Regions from separate parts of the Homo sapiens genome. Here region 2 is linked to region 1. Evidence: fine-mapped expression QTL. Tissue or cell type: whole blood. Region 1 holds a variant in brackets; the other region holds the start of a gene. All regions are shown on one strand. Distances are from middle to middle.

What was found. PIP is the estimated chance that this variant, and not a neighbour inherited with it, causes the effect.
Region 2: it holds the start of GRB2, and the variant in region 1 is fine-mapped to the expression of GRB2 in whole blood (INTERVAL, PIP 0.92).

What each region holds. Positions count from the first base shown.
Region 1 is chr17:75,308,302-75,316,405 of GRCh38, reverse strand. No RefSeq gene overlaps it. Among named protein-coding and RNA genes, the nearest start is that of SLC25A19, 23 kb to the right of the region's middle. RefSeq lists an enhancer at 262-411. The variant G/A (reference allele first, on the strand shown) is at 4,141.
Region 2 is chr17:75,402,323-75,410,426 of GRCh38, reverse strand. GRB2 (growth factor receptor bound protein 2) reads left to right here and starts at 4,749. Exons shown (of 6, transcript NM_002086.5): 1 at 4,749-4,938. It overlaps MIR3678 (microRNA 3678), which reads right to left and starts at 4,358; the gene lies at 4,265-4,358. It also overlaps the pseudogene RNU6-938P. RefSeq lists a silencer at 4,512-4,691.

The DNA.
Region 1 (8,104 bases):
ACGCTACTGCACCTGGCTAATTTCATTTTTTTTTGTACAGTGGGGTCTGTGTTTCCCAGGCTGGTCTCAGACTCCTGGGCTCAAGAGATCCCCCCACCCTTGGCCTTTCAAAGTGCTGGAAATCCAGGCGTGAGCTGTGCCTGGCCTGGGACGTTTTTGACCTTCCCCTGCAGCAGTCATGTGTGGGAAGGATCTTGACCCAGCAAGAGTCAAGACTGCTAGTCCTGTGGTCCACTTGGGCTGGCCTCCTTGAAGCTGAGCAGAAGTTTACAAAATGGAGCTATGTAATTGAAAAGGCCGGGCGTGGTGACTCATTTAGCCTCATTTGAGGCTTTTTGCTCAATTTGTCCCCTCCCTCGCGTTTGACTGACTGTTTCAGAATTAATGGGAAAATCACTCCTTTTCTGTGATCAGCAGTTTGGTCACAGATTTCTTAGTGATGGTATCTCCCTCCTCAGGGATCCGGGATTCCTGGGAAGACATCTGGGCGGGGTGCCTTGGGAAGCCTCCCAGCATCTTACAGGAGCCCTGTGGCCGGCGTGCAGCCGGGAGTCGCTCAGTGTGTCAGGGGAAAAGCTGGAGGTAGGCGCATGGCCTCGCTCTTCAGGGCACGCCCCCCCCACCCCTCCCTGACACGCTTCCCTCCACCCAGTGAGCTGGGAGCCCCTGACAGGCTCACCTTCAGACTTGAGTGTGGAGGAGATGGTGACCCACAGCGCGGGGCTGCTTAGGTGGCCTCTGAGCCAAAGGCCATGATGGCGCAGGCTGCCTGCCTTCCCTGGGCACTAGTTCCACCTGACTGTTCATGGGGTGGGTGACCTTCAGCCCAAAACGTTCGCTTTATGGAAGTTCCTGGATAACTGGAAAAAATGACAGTGGACCTGTTTTATGCGTCTTGGAAATACTTTTTTTTTCTTTTTTTTTTTTTTGAGACAGAGTCTCCGTCTGTCCCCTAGGCTGGAATGCAGTGGCACGATCTTGGCTCACTGCAACCTCCACCTCCCGGGTTCAAGTGATTCTCCTGCCTCACCCTCCTAAGTAGCTGGGATAACCAGCTCCTGCCACCACGCCCAGCTAATTTTTGTACCTGGGGTCAGGAGTTCAAGACCAGCCTGGCCAACGTGGTGAAACCCTGTCTCTACTAAAAATACAAAAATTAGGTGGGCGTGGTGGCGGGCACCTGTAATCACAGCTACTCGGCAGGCTGAGTCAGGAGAATCGCTTGAACCCGGGAGGCAGAGGTTGCAGTGAGCCGAGATCGCGCCATCACACTCCAGCCTGGGCGACAGAGTGAGACTCCGTCTCAAAAAAAAAAGAGTACAATTCTGTGTGCCAACAGCACTGATAGATCAATATTACATGTTAGTGATATTGATTAAGCCACTTACTGCTTAGTGCATTCCAAACACTACTTTTAAAACTAACACTAAAAGCCATACTATACCCCGTCCAAAAAAGAAATCACTAAGACGTATTTTAAGTCTCAACTCTGGCCCACCCAAGAGCAACACTGGTCTTAGGTCTCCAAGGACAGCCTTCTTTTTTTCTTTTTTCTTTTTTTTTTTTCAGTTGGAGTCTGGCTCTGTTGCTGGAGTACAGTGGCGCCATCTCAGCTCATTGCAACCTCCGCTTCCTGGGTGCAAGCGATTCTGCTGCCTCAGCTTCCCGAATAGCTCGGACTACAGGCGCCCGCCACCACACCCAGCTAATTTTTGTATTTTTAGTAGAGATGGGGTTTCACCATGTTGGCCACGATGGTCTTGATCTCCTGACCTCGTGATCTGCCCACCTTGGCCTCTAAAGTGCTGGGATTACAGGCGTGAGCCACCAGGCCCTGCCCCAGCCTTTTTTTTTTTTAACATTCCTGGATTCGGGTTGAGAAAGCACAGCTATTGCAGCCATTCTCTGAGTGTGAGTCGTGGCGTCAGCAGTGTTGGCCTCCAAAATAGCAGCTGCCAGGTCCTGAGGGCTCGCCTCGTGCTGCAGGCCTGTGCAAGGGCCCGAGCCTGGGGTGAAAGGGTGGATGTTTGCCTCCTGCTGTAACCCCACCCCTCATCCTGCGCTGTGCTAGGGAAGCAAGGGGCGAGGGTGTACCCTTTTTCATTTACTCTGTTACACATGTGTTGCCCACACCTGTAGGGATTGATGGTGAACGTCATTCCTGGGGCGTGTGGAATTGGAGGCAATTATCTCCCCTCTAACTGGAGGCTGAGGAGGGCCCCCGTGTCTTCTCACACCATCAACCACCGCTTTCCATTCCTGCACGGTGGCATTGCTGCCCTGAGTCACCCTGAAACTGGAAACTGCCCCACTGGAGCCTTCTGTCCTTGACACAGACGCACTCTTCAGTCCTGATCCTTGTATTATGCAAGCCCTTGCATGAGAGAGACTCAAAGAGGAAATGTAGACAGCACAGGCTCAAAGGGAGGCTTGGAGGCAGATGGGACTTGCCCTGGGGATTGGGTGAAATGAGTTTGGACAGTTACTAATAGGACAGTAGACACCCAGAGCAGGTGGTCTAGTAGAGGCGTGGCGGTGTTAGCGAGCACCTGCCTGGACATGGCTTGAGGGAGCCTGAGTAGCCTCCTGCAACGAGGAAGAAAGAGCCCAGGTGGGGTTTGTGGGGGACTCGAATGCAGGCTGAGCGATGCCCATTCTGCCTGTTGACACAGGAGGCTTCTGTAGCTTTTTTTTTTTTTTTTTTTTTTAAACAGAGTCTCACTCACCCAGGCTGGAGTGCCGTGGCACGATCTCAGCTCACTGCAACCTCTGCCTCTTGGGCTCAAGCAATTCTCCTTCCTCAGCCTCTCCAGTAGCTGGGATTACAGGTGTGCACCACCATGCCCAGCTAATTTTTGTATTTTTAGTAGAGATGGGGTTTTGCCATGTTGGCCAGGCTGATCTCAAACTCCCGACCTCAGGTGATCCACCCGCCCCAGCCTCCCAAAGTGCTGGGATTACAGGTGTGAGCCACCATGCCTGGCTGCTTCTGTAGCTCTTATAGATCAGCGGTACGATGAAAGATAAGTTTTAGGAACATCTGACTTGCAGTGGTGCGGAGACCAGAATCCGGATAGCCTGGAAGAGGCTAGGGTCGTGTTAGCTGAGTGAAGTCAGGCTCTGCAGCAGAGTGTGCGCAGTGCTCACCTGGCTCTCTCCCGACCAGTTGTCTGGACCATGTGCCCAACCTCCCTGCAGTTCCAAGCAGCCATGTGCTCCAGTCCTGACGTGTGTGGTGTGTTTGGGGCCTTGTGGCCTCCCCACTTTGTTGCTTCTCTTGCCTGTGGGTGGATGCAGGAGAGCCAGCAGAAGACCCAGAGCACCTGCTAGATTTGGAACATGTCTGGGGCGGGGCACAGTGGCTCATGCCTGTAATCCCAGCACTTTGGGAGGATCACTTTAGCCCAAGAGATTGAGAACAGTCTGGCAATATAGTGAGACCCTGTCTCTACAAAAAATTAGACAGACTCAGTGGTGTGCTCCTGTAGTCCCAGCTACTCAAAGAGGCTGAGGCAGGAGGATTGCCTGAGTCTGGAAGGTCGAGGCTACAGTGAGCCATGATTCTGCCACTGCACTCCAGCCTGGGCAGCAGAGACCGAGACCTCGTCTCAAAAAAATGAAACAAATATCAGCTGTGTTGCATCACTGACGGGGGGAGGAGGGTTGTCTGTTACAGCAGCCACACTGCCTATCCAGGGACAATGCTGGGGATAGGACCTGGGGAGAAACTTGAGAGGCCCAGCAAAAAATAGGAGGTTTTGGCCGGGCACGGTGGCTCACGCCTGTAATCCCAGCACTTTGGGAGGCCGAGGCGGACAGATCACCTGAGGTTGGGAGTTTGAAACTAGCCTGACCAACATGGAGAAACCCCATCTCTACTAAAAATACAAAATTAGCTGGGCATGGTGGTGCATGCCTGTAATCCCAGCTACTCAGGAGGCTGAGGCAGGAGAATCACTTGAACTCAGGAGGTGGAGGTTGCGGTGAGCCAAGATCATGCCATTGCACTCCAGCCTGGGCAACAAGAGTGAAGCTCTGTCTCAAAAAAAAAAAAAAGAAAAGAAAAAAATATGAGGTTTTGGAAAAGGAAGTAGAATTGCTTGTCATCTAAAATAGAAGGAAGCAGCAGTGACAGCTTTC[G/A]TAAGACCAGCATCTGCGCCATCTCCTTACAGATGGGGCTGGCTCTTCGGCACGAACCCCACTCTCCAGACCTAGCTGCATAGGACAAGCCAATTTCTCTCTGAATGTCTTTTTTTTTTTTTTTTTTTTTTTTTTTTTGAGACGAAGTCTTGCTTTGTCTCAGGCTGGAGTGCAGTGGCATGATCATAGCTCACTGCTTGCTTGAAGTCCTGTGCTCAAGTGATCCTCCCGCCTCAACCTCCCGAGTAGCTGGACGTGCGCACCACCATGCCCAGCTAATTAAAAAAAATTTCACAGAGATGGGGTCTCACTATATTGCCCAGACTAGTCTTGAACTCCTGCACTCAAGGGATCCTCCCGCCTCAGCCTCCCAAAGTGTTGGGATTAAAGGCATAAGCCACCACACTTGGCCTTTTTTTTTTTTTTTTTTTTTTTTCTGAGACAGAGTCTTACTCTGGAGTGCAGTGGCACGATCTCTGCTCACTCCAACCTCCGCCTCCTGGGTTCAAGTGATTCTCCTGCCTCAGCCTCTTGAGTAGATGGGACTATAGGCACCCGCCACCTTGCCTAATTTTTTTTTTTTTTTTTTTGAGATGGAGTCTCACTCTGTCGCCCAAGCTGGAGTGCAGTGGCACAATCTCGGCTCACTGTAACCTCTGCCTGCCGGGTTCAAGGAATTCTTCAGCCTCAGCCTCCCGAGTAGCTGGGACAACAGGCATGCCACCATGCCCAGCTAATTTTTTTGTAGTTTTAGTACAGATGGGGTTTCACCATGCTGGCCAGGCTGGTCTTGAACTCTTGACCTCGTGATCCACCTGCCTTGGCCTCTCAAAGGGCTGGGATTACAAGAGTGAGCCACCGTGCCTGGCCCGTGGCCTAATTTTTGTATTTTTAGTAGAGACGGGGTTTCACCAATTTGGCCAGGCTGGTCTCGAACTCCTGACCTCAAGTGATCTGCCTGCCTCGGCCTCCCAAAATGCTGGGATTACAGGCATGAGCTACTGTGCTCAGCCTTTTTTTTTTTTTTTTTTTTTTTTTTGAGACGGAGTTTTGCTCTTGTTGCCCAGGCTGGAGTGCAATGGTGCAATCTCGGCTCACCACAACCTCCAGCTCCTGGGTTCAAGCGATTCTTCTGCCTCAGCCTCCCGAGTAACTGGGATTATAGGCATGAGCCATCACACTTGGCTAATTTTGTATTTTTAGTAGAGACGGGGGTTTCTCCATGTTGATCAGGCTGGTCTCGAACTCCCAGCCTCAGGTGATCCACTCTCCTCGGCCTCCTAAAGTGCTGGGATTACAGGCATGAGCCACCGCACCCAGCCAATTTTTTTTTTTTTTTTTAAGAGACAAGAGTCTTGCTCCATGGCCCAGCCTGGAGTGCAGTGGTGTGATCATAGCTCACTGCAGCCTCAAACTCCTGGGCTCAAGCCATCCTCCCACCTCAATCTCCCAAGGAACTGGGACTACAGGTGGTACCACCACACCTAGCGAATTTTAAAATTTTTTGAAGATTTTAGGCCGAGCATGGTGACTCATGCCTGTAATCCCAGCACTTTTGGAGGCCGAGGGGGCCAGATCACCTGAGGTCAGGAGTTCACAACCAGCCTGGCCAACCTGGTGAAACCCAGTCTCTACTAAAAATACAAAAATTAGCCGGGCATGGTGGCCCACGCCTGTAATTCCAGCTGCACAGGAGGCTAAAGCAGGAGAATCACTTGAACCTGGGAGGCAGAGGTTGCAGCAAGCCGAGATGGCGTCACTGCACTCCAGCCTGGGCGACAGAGCGAGACTCTGTCTCAAAAAAAAAAAAAAAAAAAAGTTTTATGGAGATATGATCAATGTAACATTTTTAAGTGACCCATCTAAAGTATATTATTCAATGTTTTTTAGTATTCACAGTTATGCAATCATCACCACAATCCATTTTATTTTATGTTTTTTAGTAGAGACAGGGTCTCACTATGTTGCTCAGGCTGGTCTCAAACTCCTGTCCTCAAGCGACCCTCCCACCTTGGCCTCCCAAAGTGCTGGGATTACAGACATGATCCACTGTGCCAGCCACCACAATCCATTTTAGAACACTGTCATACCCCAAAAGAAACCATATACCCCAGCCTGGGCAACATGGCAAAACCTTGCCCCTACAAGAAATAACAAAAATTAGCCAGCTGTGTAATCCCAGCACTTTGGGAGGCCGAGGTGGGTGGATCACCAGAGGTCAGGAGTTTGAGACTAGCCGGGCCAATATGGTGAAACCTTGTCTCTACTAAAAATACAAAAATTAGCCAGGCGTGGTTGCGTGTGCCTGTAGTCCCAGCTACTCAGGAGGCTGAGGCAGGAGAATCACTTGAACCCGGGAGGCGGAGGTTGCAGTGAGCCAAGATCACACCATTGCACTCCAGCCTGGGCAACAGAGTGAGACTCCGTCTAAAAAAAATAAAGAAACTGCTGATGTTGTCCCAGTGAAGGGAGTGGCAGAGGGCCAAGGGCGTTGAGCTGTATTTAGGAGGAGCTGGGAAGACCTGGGGTGGAGGGAAAGGCAGGTCCAGATGGCTGCAGGGCAGTGGGGGGATCTGTGGCTTTTGTTTGTTGAGATGGGGAACTAGGGGAAGAGGGGCAGGGTGGGGTGAAGCAGAGAGAAAGGCTGGAGGGTTGGATTTGAGGTGCCTGAGGACAATCATCTAGAAAGCAGCAGGGTGTGTTCACCTGGAGCTCAGGAGACAGATCTGACAGGAGATCGAGATCCAGGTGTTGTCAGTGTGGAGGTGGCCCTGAAACCATGGCCACGGGTGAGGCCTCACATACTCCAGTCCCCATAAGGAAGCACAGCCCTGAGGGCTGGGCGAGGGGAAGGCAGGAAGCACACAGGAGAGAGGCCAGAGCGGCAGGAGGTGAGCCAAGAGTCCACAGCACCAGGGACGCCACAGGGCTCCAGGGACAGGGCTGCAGGGAAATGCTCCCTGGTACCATCCTGGTCCCGGCCCTTCGTCCCCCTCTCCCCACTGCCACAAAACCTCCTCCTGTCTCTCCACCCTGCCTCTTTCCCCAGCCTGTCCAAAGAGGGCAAAGTCCAGGCTCCTGCCCCTCAGGAGCAGTGTGATGTAGGACAAAGAGCATGAGATCGCAGGCCTGAGGCCAGGGCCTTTATTCCTCGCTGTGTGACCAGGGCCCCCTTTTTCTCCTTTTTTCTTCCTTTTTTTTTTTTTTTTTTTTTTTGAAACAGAGCAAGACTCTATCGCCCAAGCTGGAGTGCAGTGATGCAATCCCAGCTCACTGCAACCTCCGCCTCCCGGGTTCAAGCGATTCTCCCACCTCAGCTTCCCGAGTTAGGATTACAGGCACGTTCCACCATGTCTGGCTGGTTGTTTGTATTTTTAATAGAAACGGGGTTTCGCTGTGTTGCCCAGGCTGATCTTGAACTCTTGGCCTCAAGTGATCCACCCACCTCAGCCTCCCAAATTGCTGGGATTACTGGCGTGAGCCATGGCGCCTGGCCACGACCAGGGCCCTTAACCTCTCACCCCCATTCCTTCATCTGTTTAAAAATCAAACCAAGGAAAATGTCCCTAGGTTGCTCTGAGGATCCAACGTGATTATGTACACGGGTGTTTTGCAACTGCAACGATTAAGTACATCGTGACAGGTGCTGATTAGGATCTTGGCATTCAAGATCTCATACAGTCTGCACCTGGTCCAATTCTCCAAGCCTTTGGCCAACCAAATCCCTTCTGAGTCTTTGCCTTTGGTCAGCATCTACCTTTCTCCCAGATCACAGGCAAAACCTCAGCTCACTGCAACCTCCACCTCCTGGGCTCAACCAATCCTACCACGTCAGCCTCCCAAGTAGCTGGGACCACAGACACACACCACCATGTCCGGCTAAATTTTTGTATTTTTAGTAGTGATAGGGTTTCACCATGTTGCCCAGGCTGGTCTCCAACTCCTGAGCTCAATCGATCCCCCT
Region 2 (8,104 bases), 94 kb before region 1:
AGACATGTCTTCCCCTTCAGGCTGCAGACTCTGTGGAGGGTTGTCCTCCTCTCTAGAGAGTAGATGCTCTAGGCTGGGCGTGGTGGCTCACGCTTGTAATCTTAGCACTTTGGGAGGCCAAGGCGGGCAGATTGCCTGAGCCCAGGAGTTTGAGACCAACCTAACCAACATGATGATACCCATCTCTACTAAAAACACAAAAATTTAGCCAAGCGTGGTGGTGCATGACTGTTGTCCCAGGTACTGGGGGGCTGAGGCAGGAGGATCTCTTGCCCAGGAGGTTGAGGCTGCAGTGAGCCCTGATCGTGCCACTGCACTCCAGCCTGGGCAACAGAGTGAGACCCTGTCTCAATACATACATACATACATACATACGTACATACATACATACTTACATAACACAAAAAATTAGCTGGGCATGGCGGCATGTGCCTGTAGTTCTGGCTACTTGGGAGACTCAGATGGGAGAATTACCTGAGCCTGGGAAGTCAAGGCTGCAGTGAGCTGAGGTTGCGCCACTGCACTCCAGCCTGGGTGACAAGAGTGAGACCCTGTCTCAAAAACAAAAAAAAACAAACAAAGAGAATAGATGCTTAGTTAATGTTGGCAAAGAGAATGAATGAGTACATTAAGCTTTTCTTTTATTTATTTATTTATTTTTTTTTTTGAGATGGAGTCTGGTTCTGTCACCCAGGTTGGAGTGCAGTGGCATGATCTTTGCTTACTGCAACCTCCGCCTCCTGGGTTCAAGCAATTCTCCTGCCTCAGCCTCCCGAGTAGCTGGGGTTACAAGCATGTGCCACCACGCCCGGCTAATTTTTGCATTTTTAGTAGAGATGAGGTTTCACCATGTTGGCTAGGCTGGTCTCAAACTCCTGACTTCAAGTGATCCACCTGCCTCAGCCTCCCAAAGTGCTGGGATTATGGGAGAGAACGCTGCGTCCAGCTTGTCAAGCTTTTCAACAGCATACTGAATATTTCCACCTGCATGTCTCCTGGAATGCTGAATTCTGCATTTCCAAAAATGAGTCATCATCATGTTGGGGCTCAGAGAATGATACCCCAAAGTATGCTCCTCTGGCATTCTGAGCACTTTTGAATGAAAGGAAATTGGAAGGACTTACAAGCTGCCTCAGAACCAAGGACTTTTTAAAGTCTTGTTTCACCACCCCACATGCATGCAGGGGCTGTCTGAAAGTTCCCTTAGCTGACTGAGAAACCAAAAGAAATTCAATTGTGTACTTGCTTTGGCAGCACATATACTAAAATTGGAATGATACAGAGATTAGCATAGCCCCTGAGCAAGAAGACATGCAAATCTGTGAAGGGATCCATTAAAAAAGAAAGAAAGAAAAAGAGCAGGTGTGGTGGCTCACGCCTGTGATCCCAGCACTTTGGGAGGCCAAGGCGGGCGGATCACCTGAGGTCGGGAGTTCGAGACCAGCCTGACCAACAGGGAAAAGCCCCATCTCTGCTAAACATACAAAATTAGCCGGGCGTGGTGGTGCATGCCTGTAATGCCAGCTACTCTGGAGGCTGAGGCAGGAGCATCACTTGAACCTGGGAGGTGGAGGTTTCGGTGAGCTGAGATCACGCCATTGCACTCCAGCCTGGACAACAAGAGTGAAACTACATCTCAAAAAAAAAAAAAAGAAAAGAAAAGAAAAAAAATAGATGCGACTGTCTTAAAATTTCCTCCCTAGGACTCTCGTCAAATAACCAGGAAATATTAACTACCAGAGAAGAGAAAAGACTAAAAGTTGTCACCACATCCAAACAGACTTTTCATCTATTCTCCTGAGGACAGCTGAGATTATTTAGGAGACTTTATCTGCATAATAAGACAACCTTTATTTACAGTGAAGTCCTGCACCTCACCTTCCTGAAATTTGTCACAACCTCCAGCTCCCAGAGCTCAGAGGAACTTTGTCCCAGGCATTGTTTGGGCTCATTCCTTTTCCCTAAAAATAGTTGACTACCTTTCAGTATTGCTGACCTCCGCTCATCTCCCTCTCCTCTGCAAAGATGGTGCTCTTTAAGCTTCAGCCACCTGGCTCTTCTCTGAGTCTCATATTCTGTATGGTAACCATGCACACTGCATGTCAGTAAATTTGTATGTGCTTTCTCCTGTTAATCTATTGCCAGTTTATTTCAGCAGACTCAAACTGTCAGAGTGGAAGGGAAAAATTCCCTTCACCCTTACAATCATCTCCTCACCTGCCCTTCCCTGTTCTCTGTGCCTGCCCCCTCCAGTCAGCTATGCCTCTTGACTGGCAAATTTCTGTGTTCTCCCTGTTATCCAGGCCCACTCAAAACAAAAAACTGCAATTCTTCCCTCATGTCTTCCTCTCTGCTTAGCAGCTAAGTCCCTCCCTTCCATTTCTATTTTTTTCTGACTGCTATTTTAGAACAAAGTGGCATAGTGCGGGAAAAAAATGAGGATTTTAGAACAAGACAGGCCTTAGTCCAAATCTTAGGTCTACTATATTTTGGCTTCCTTGGGTAAATTACTAACCTCTCTAAGGCTTAGTTTCCAAGTCTGTAAAATGGGGATATTACCCACCCTGTGGAGGCGCTATGACTTAAGTATGCATCAAGTGGTAAATAGAGGGTCCTTTTCTTATTTTCACCTCATATCAGACACCTCCTGCTCAGAAACCTTCAGAGGTTGCCCATCACTTGACTATGACACCTAAGCCATGCATTTTGCATTTTGGCCCCTCTCTCTCATCACTCTTCCCCCCAATTACTGGGGCTTGGACTAATCAAAAACATTGGTTGATGGCCAGGAGTGTTGGCTCACATCTGTAATCCCAGCACTTTGAGAGGCTGAGGCAGGTGGATCACCTGAGGTCAGGAGTTCGAGACCAGCCTGGCCAACATGGCGAAACCCTGTCTCTATTAAAAATACAAAAATTAGCTGGGTGTGGTGGCAGGCTGCTGTAATCTCAGCTACTTGAGAGGCTGAGGTGAGAGAATGCTTGAACCCAGGAGGCGGAAGTTGCAGTGAGCCAAAATCATGCCACTGCACTCCACTCCAGCCTGGGCAACAGTGCAAGTCTCAAAAAAAAAAAAAAAACCAAAAAAACAGGCATGGTGGCTCACGCCTGTAATCCCAGCACTTTGGGAGGCCAAGGTGGGCGGATCACCTGAGGTCAGGAGTTTGAGACCAGCCTGACCAACATGGAGAAACCCCATCTCTACTAGAAATACAAAATTAGCTGGGTGTGGTGGCACATGCCTGTAATCCCAGCTACTCGGGAGGCTGAGGCAGGAGAATCCCTTGAACCCGGGAGGCGGAGCTTGCGGTGAGCCAAGATCGCGCACCATTGCACTCCAGCCTGGGCAACAAGAGCAAAACTCCGTCTCAAAAAAAAAAAAAAAAAAAAAAAACAAAAGGCTGATTCCATTACTCTTTCCTCTTTCCTCCCTGCTTTCACTTTGCCGTTCAAACCAAATCCTTCTTGATTAGCTCAGCACCAAGTACTGGCTCCCTCCTCAGCCATCCCTATGTGTAGTTCAGTGGCACTTGGGGCCAACTGCTTGTCTTACAGATTAGGCAACTCTAGATTACAAAGCACTGAAAGCAGGGGCTTCATCTGGTTGGTCTTTGACCCTGCAGAGCCCCTTGCACACAGGTGATGCTCAATAAATACTTGGTGAAAGCACAATTCATTTTCTGTGTTTCAATGGGCTTCTTTTCTCTATAGAATCAGATGCTTGGTTATTCTCACCTCAGCGCTATTTTGTTGGCTTCCAGAAGGCACAGTAACGCTAGGTGTGTTGTGTTCTATCCTTTAATTGGAAGAGCTTTGGGAACTGAAAAATAAGAATTATTTCTCCAAGCCTCATCTTCTGCCACTCCCCCGTACTCACCGGCCTCATACAGGAATTGAACTACTTAGCACTGCACAGAACACGACTTTCTCTCTCACGCCTCCGTTCCTCTGTACTTAGCCTCTGTACTTACGTGCCATTCCCTTTCCCTGAAATGCCCTTACTCTGGCTTCTCTGCCTGGCAAATTCCTACTCATCCTCCAAGACTCAGATCAGACATCGCCGCATCACATCTGTGAAGGCTCTTCTGCAATGGGCAGTGTAGCAGTACCCCCTCCATTTTTTTAGCTTCCTCAGCAAACTCCAAATAATTATAACAGTACTTATGGCATTATTTGTTTATTTTTCTTCTACTTCCTAGACCGTGAATTCCTTAAGGGCCAAGATTTCTGTTCTATCCCCAGCACAGTGTTCGGCCTATATTGGAGAATCCGGTCCGTACAAACTCTGCAGTGATTCAATCAATGAGCAAACAAACTCACCAATCATTCAACACAGCAGAGTTTGTACGGACCGGATTCTCAAATATTTTAAGACCTGGTCCTCTATTTGGAGTGCTTCATTCTGGAAGATCTCTTCCTCCCCCAAGCCCCTACCCATCCAACTGCCTAGGTTTGGTAGAAGAGGAAAATAAAGTGATTAGACGGGGGAAGAGTCCTTCAGGGCTAAGCTGTCATTTACCCGCTCTGGCACCGAGAGGGTTACGGCGACCCGGGGGCGGAGCCGTGCGGAGGCCACCTGCTGCGGGGAGGTCTGGCGCATGCGCCCTGACACCTAGCTGGTTCCCTACCCGCAGGGGCCCGGCTGAGGAGGAGCGCTTGCGCTCTGGGCCTTTTCCGCCGGGGGAAGTCTCGCGGGGGCGGGGCGGGGCCTCGTGGAGAAGTTCTCGCGGGACACCGACGGGGAGCGGAAGCCAGGAGGTATTGCTGCTTCGGCGACCGGGCGGCGGCAGCGGCGGCGGCGGCTGTGGCAGAGTCTGTGCCTGTGGCGGTGACGGCGGCGGGAGCAAGCGCTGCCCTCGCAGAGCAGCCTTGGGGTCGCCGGCCGCTCGCAGCGTTGTGGAGGGGCGGGCCGGACGCTGAGCGGAGCAGCTGCGCCACGGTGAGTACGGGAGGCTGCGCTCGGCGCCTCTCTCGTGCCTTTTCCTCTTGGCTCTACAGCGGGAGTGGGCCCCGGGGGAACCGGGACCGGCCCCGGGGTTCGCGTCGGGGCGGCGAGGCTTGGGACGTGGAGCGCAATCCCCGGGGCTCCGGACTCTACGTTTCCCCTTTTGGGGCGCTTCCTTCCTGGGGACCGTCCTCCTCCGGCTCTTGGCTCTGGGCAGTCCGGGGGAAGAGGTCGGGGTTCTCTGGCGAGGTCCCCTGCCTTCATCGGGAGGGTTTGCACGGAAGGGGCCCGGGAAGCCCAGGCGGGCCGAACGCCGACCGAGTCAGTCTACCCGAGCCTGGCGGCGGGGGACTGGTGTGGGCTGCAGCTGTGGTGATTGATGTGCCTTCGACCTGCACGGCAACCACGTCACCATCTCCTGGCGTCTTTGGGCTTAATTTTGTGCGGGAATCCACTTTGGGGTGGAACGTTTGCTGCTGGAGCCGGGGGAGATACCTTTATTCTGACACTTAAAAAAAAAAACTATTTGAAAAATATTTGTCAAGAAAAATTCAGCAGTAGCAGGTTGGACTGCACCGAGGAAGGATTGCGGCGAGAGCGGGCGCTGGTAATTTTCATTTGCAGCGCGCCCTCTCTATGATTGTAAGCCACACATGAGTTATGGCTTGTTTAGAAAGTTTTTCAAGGCTGGCTTCAAACGCTGTGAAAGTGCAGTTTGCAGGGGACTGAAGTGCACTTGAGGTCTGTCTCTTTTTGATGCTGTTGACTTTCCGAAATGTCAGACACATGAGAGAAATTAGCATTAGTCTATTTTGGCTTTCTTACTCCTCTTTCTCCAGTTATTTCCTTCCTTCTCTATCTGCTTCTGTCCTTTCCACTAGGGACACGAAATGCTTGTGTAATGCAAGTCATTTGCCCCTTCCTCCCCCCACCCCCCCCTTTTTTTCTAATGTACTTCCCCTTCCTCCTTGTAGTCCCCACTCTGGCGTAATTTTTCGAGGTTTCTTCCCTTTCGTGCTGTTCGTTTTCTCTCATTTCAAGATTCCGTCTTTTTCCTCGGGAAGAGACTCTCTTTCCTTGCTTTCGTTCCTTTACTTTTGCGCGTCCCCTGCGTTCCCTGCAGTCAGCCAGAAGGGTTGCTAGAGAGCCGTGGGAGGCTGAAGTCCCCTCTCTGAGAACGGGGAGGCTCAAAAGATTGAATTCATCCCTAAGAAATCAGTCCTGCCACTAGGTCGCAAGTGTGGTTTGCTTGTATTATTTTTGTCTTTTACTCTTTTTCTTTTAAGATTATGCTTCTGTGCCTGCTTATGTTTTCTTCTAGTATGTCTTTATAATAGGAAGATTGGGTCAGCTCAGTGACTTTTTTTTTTTAGGCAGAGTTTTGCTCTTTTTGCCCAGGCTGGAGTGCAATGGTGCTATATGGGCTCACTGCAACTCTGCCTCCTGGGTTCAAGCGATTCTCCTGCCTCAGCCTCCCGAGTAGCTGGGATCACAGGCGCCCACCACCATGTCCAGCGAATTTTGTATTTTTAGTAGAGATGGGGTTTCACTGTGTTGCCCAGGTTGGTCTTGAACTCTTGACCTCAGGTAATCCACCCGCCTTGGCCTCCCAAAGTGTTGGGATTACAGGCGTGAGCCACCGCGCCCGGCCAGAGTTAATTCTTATAATCAGCTTTCTTCTACTAAACACAAGCATTTATTTATTTATTTTATTTTTTTGAGACGGAGTCTCGCTCTGTCGCCCAGGCTGGAGTGCAGTGGTGCGATCTCGGCTCACTGCAGCTTCCACCTCCTGGGTTTAAGCGATTCTCCTGCCTCGCACTCCCGAGTAGCTGGGATTACAGGTGCTCACCACCACACCTGGCTAATTTTTGTATTTTTGTAAAGACAGAGTTTCACCATGTTGGCCAGGCTGGTCTCGAATTCCTGACCTCAAGTGATCTGCCCATCTCAGCCTTGGGATTACAGACATGAGCCACTGCGCCCGGCCTGAACTCAAACGTTTAAATGTTTGAGGCACTTTACTTCGTCAGCAAGTTATTCAGATTTGAGAGGCTTGCTGGGTTTTAAATACTACTGGTTGATGGTACTTAGAGATTCTTCTCAGTAATTGCTGTTATCATGTTGCATGTTGTCCATCAGAGTTCTAATTGTTACACATACAACAGAAGAGGAATGGATTTTGGAGAAATGAAGTAATACAGAATAGAGAGTCACCATGCCCTCCGGAGAGAAATTAATACTTGCTTAATTCAGAGGAACTCTCCACCATTACTGAATGGCTTTTGAGAGTCTGTATATATATATATATTTATATATATATATATTTTTTTTGGTCAAAGTTGCCTTTTTCCTAGTTGTGCCAAGTGAATACGCATTATTTTCTTTTTCCTTTTTTTTTTTTTTTGAGACAGATTCTCGCTCTTGTTGCCCAGGCTAGAGTGCAGTGGCACGATCTCAGGTCACCACAACTTCCACCTCCTGGGTTCGGGCAATTCTTCTGCCTCAGCCTCGCTAGTAGCTGGGATCACAGGCATGCACCACCACGCCTGGCTAATTGTGTATTTTTAGTAGAGACAGGGTTTCTCCATGTTGGTCAGGCTGGTCTGGAACTCCCGACTTCAGGTGATCCACTCACCTCAGCCTCCCAAAGTGCTGGGATTACAGGCGTGAGCCACCGCGCCCGGCCAATATGCATTATTTTCATTTCATGCAAGGACATTGTAGTGCATTATCTGGAATGCAAATTTTAAAATCTGGTTAAGGCATCCTTATGGTATAGCAGTTATTTAAAATTTAGTATCCATAAAAATCACTGGGAGATCTTTTTAAAATTAGGTTCTGGTAGAACTCCAGGATGTACCCCACAGTGAATCAGTCTCTGAATGGGTGGATTTTGATACAGATGGTCTAAGGATCAAAACTGTTGTTACCAAATGCAGCCATAAATAATAAGACTGCTGTGTGGCTTTAAGTAATTCAACTTAAAATTACATTTTTCTGTGTATACACAAAGTCAGTATTTAGAATAGCCTAATGGAATGAGTGACTATAAGCATGATTCATTTTTACATGTGTAAATTTTTTAGCATTCTTAATACTGTGATGTGGAGTGATTTAACTTGAAATTTATACTTAATAGGGTCATTAATTTGCCTAC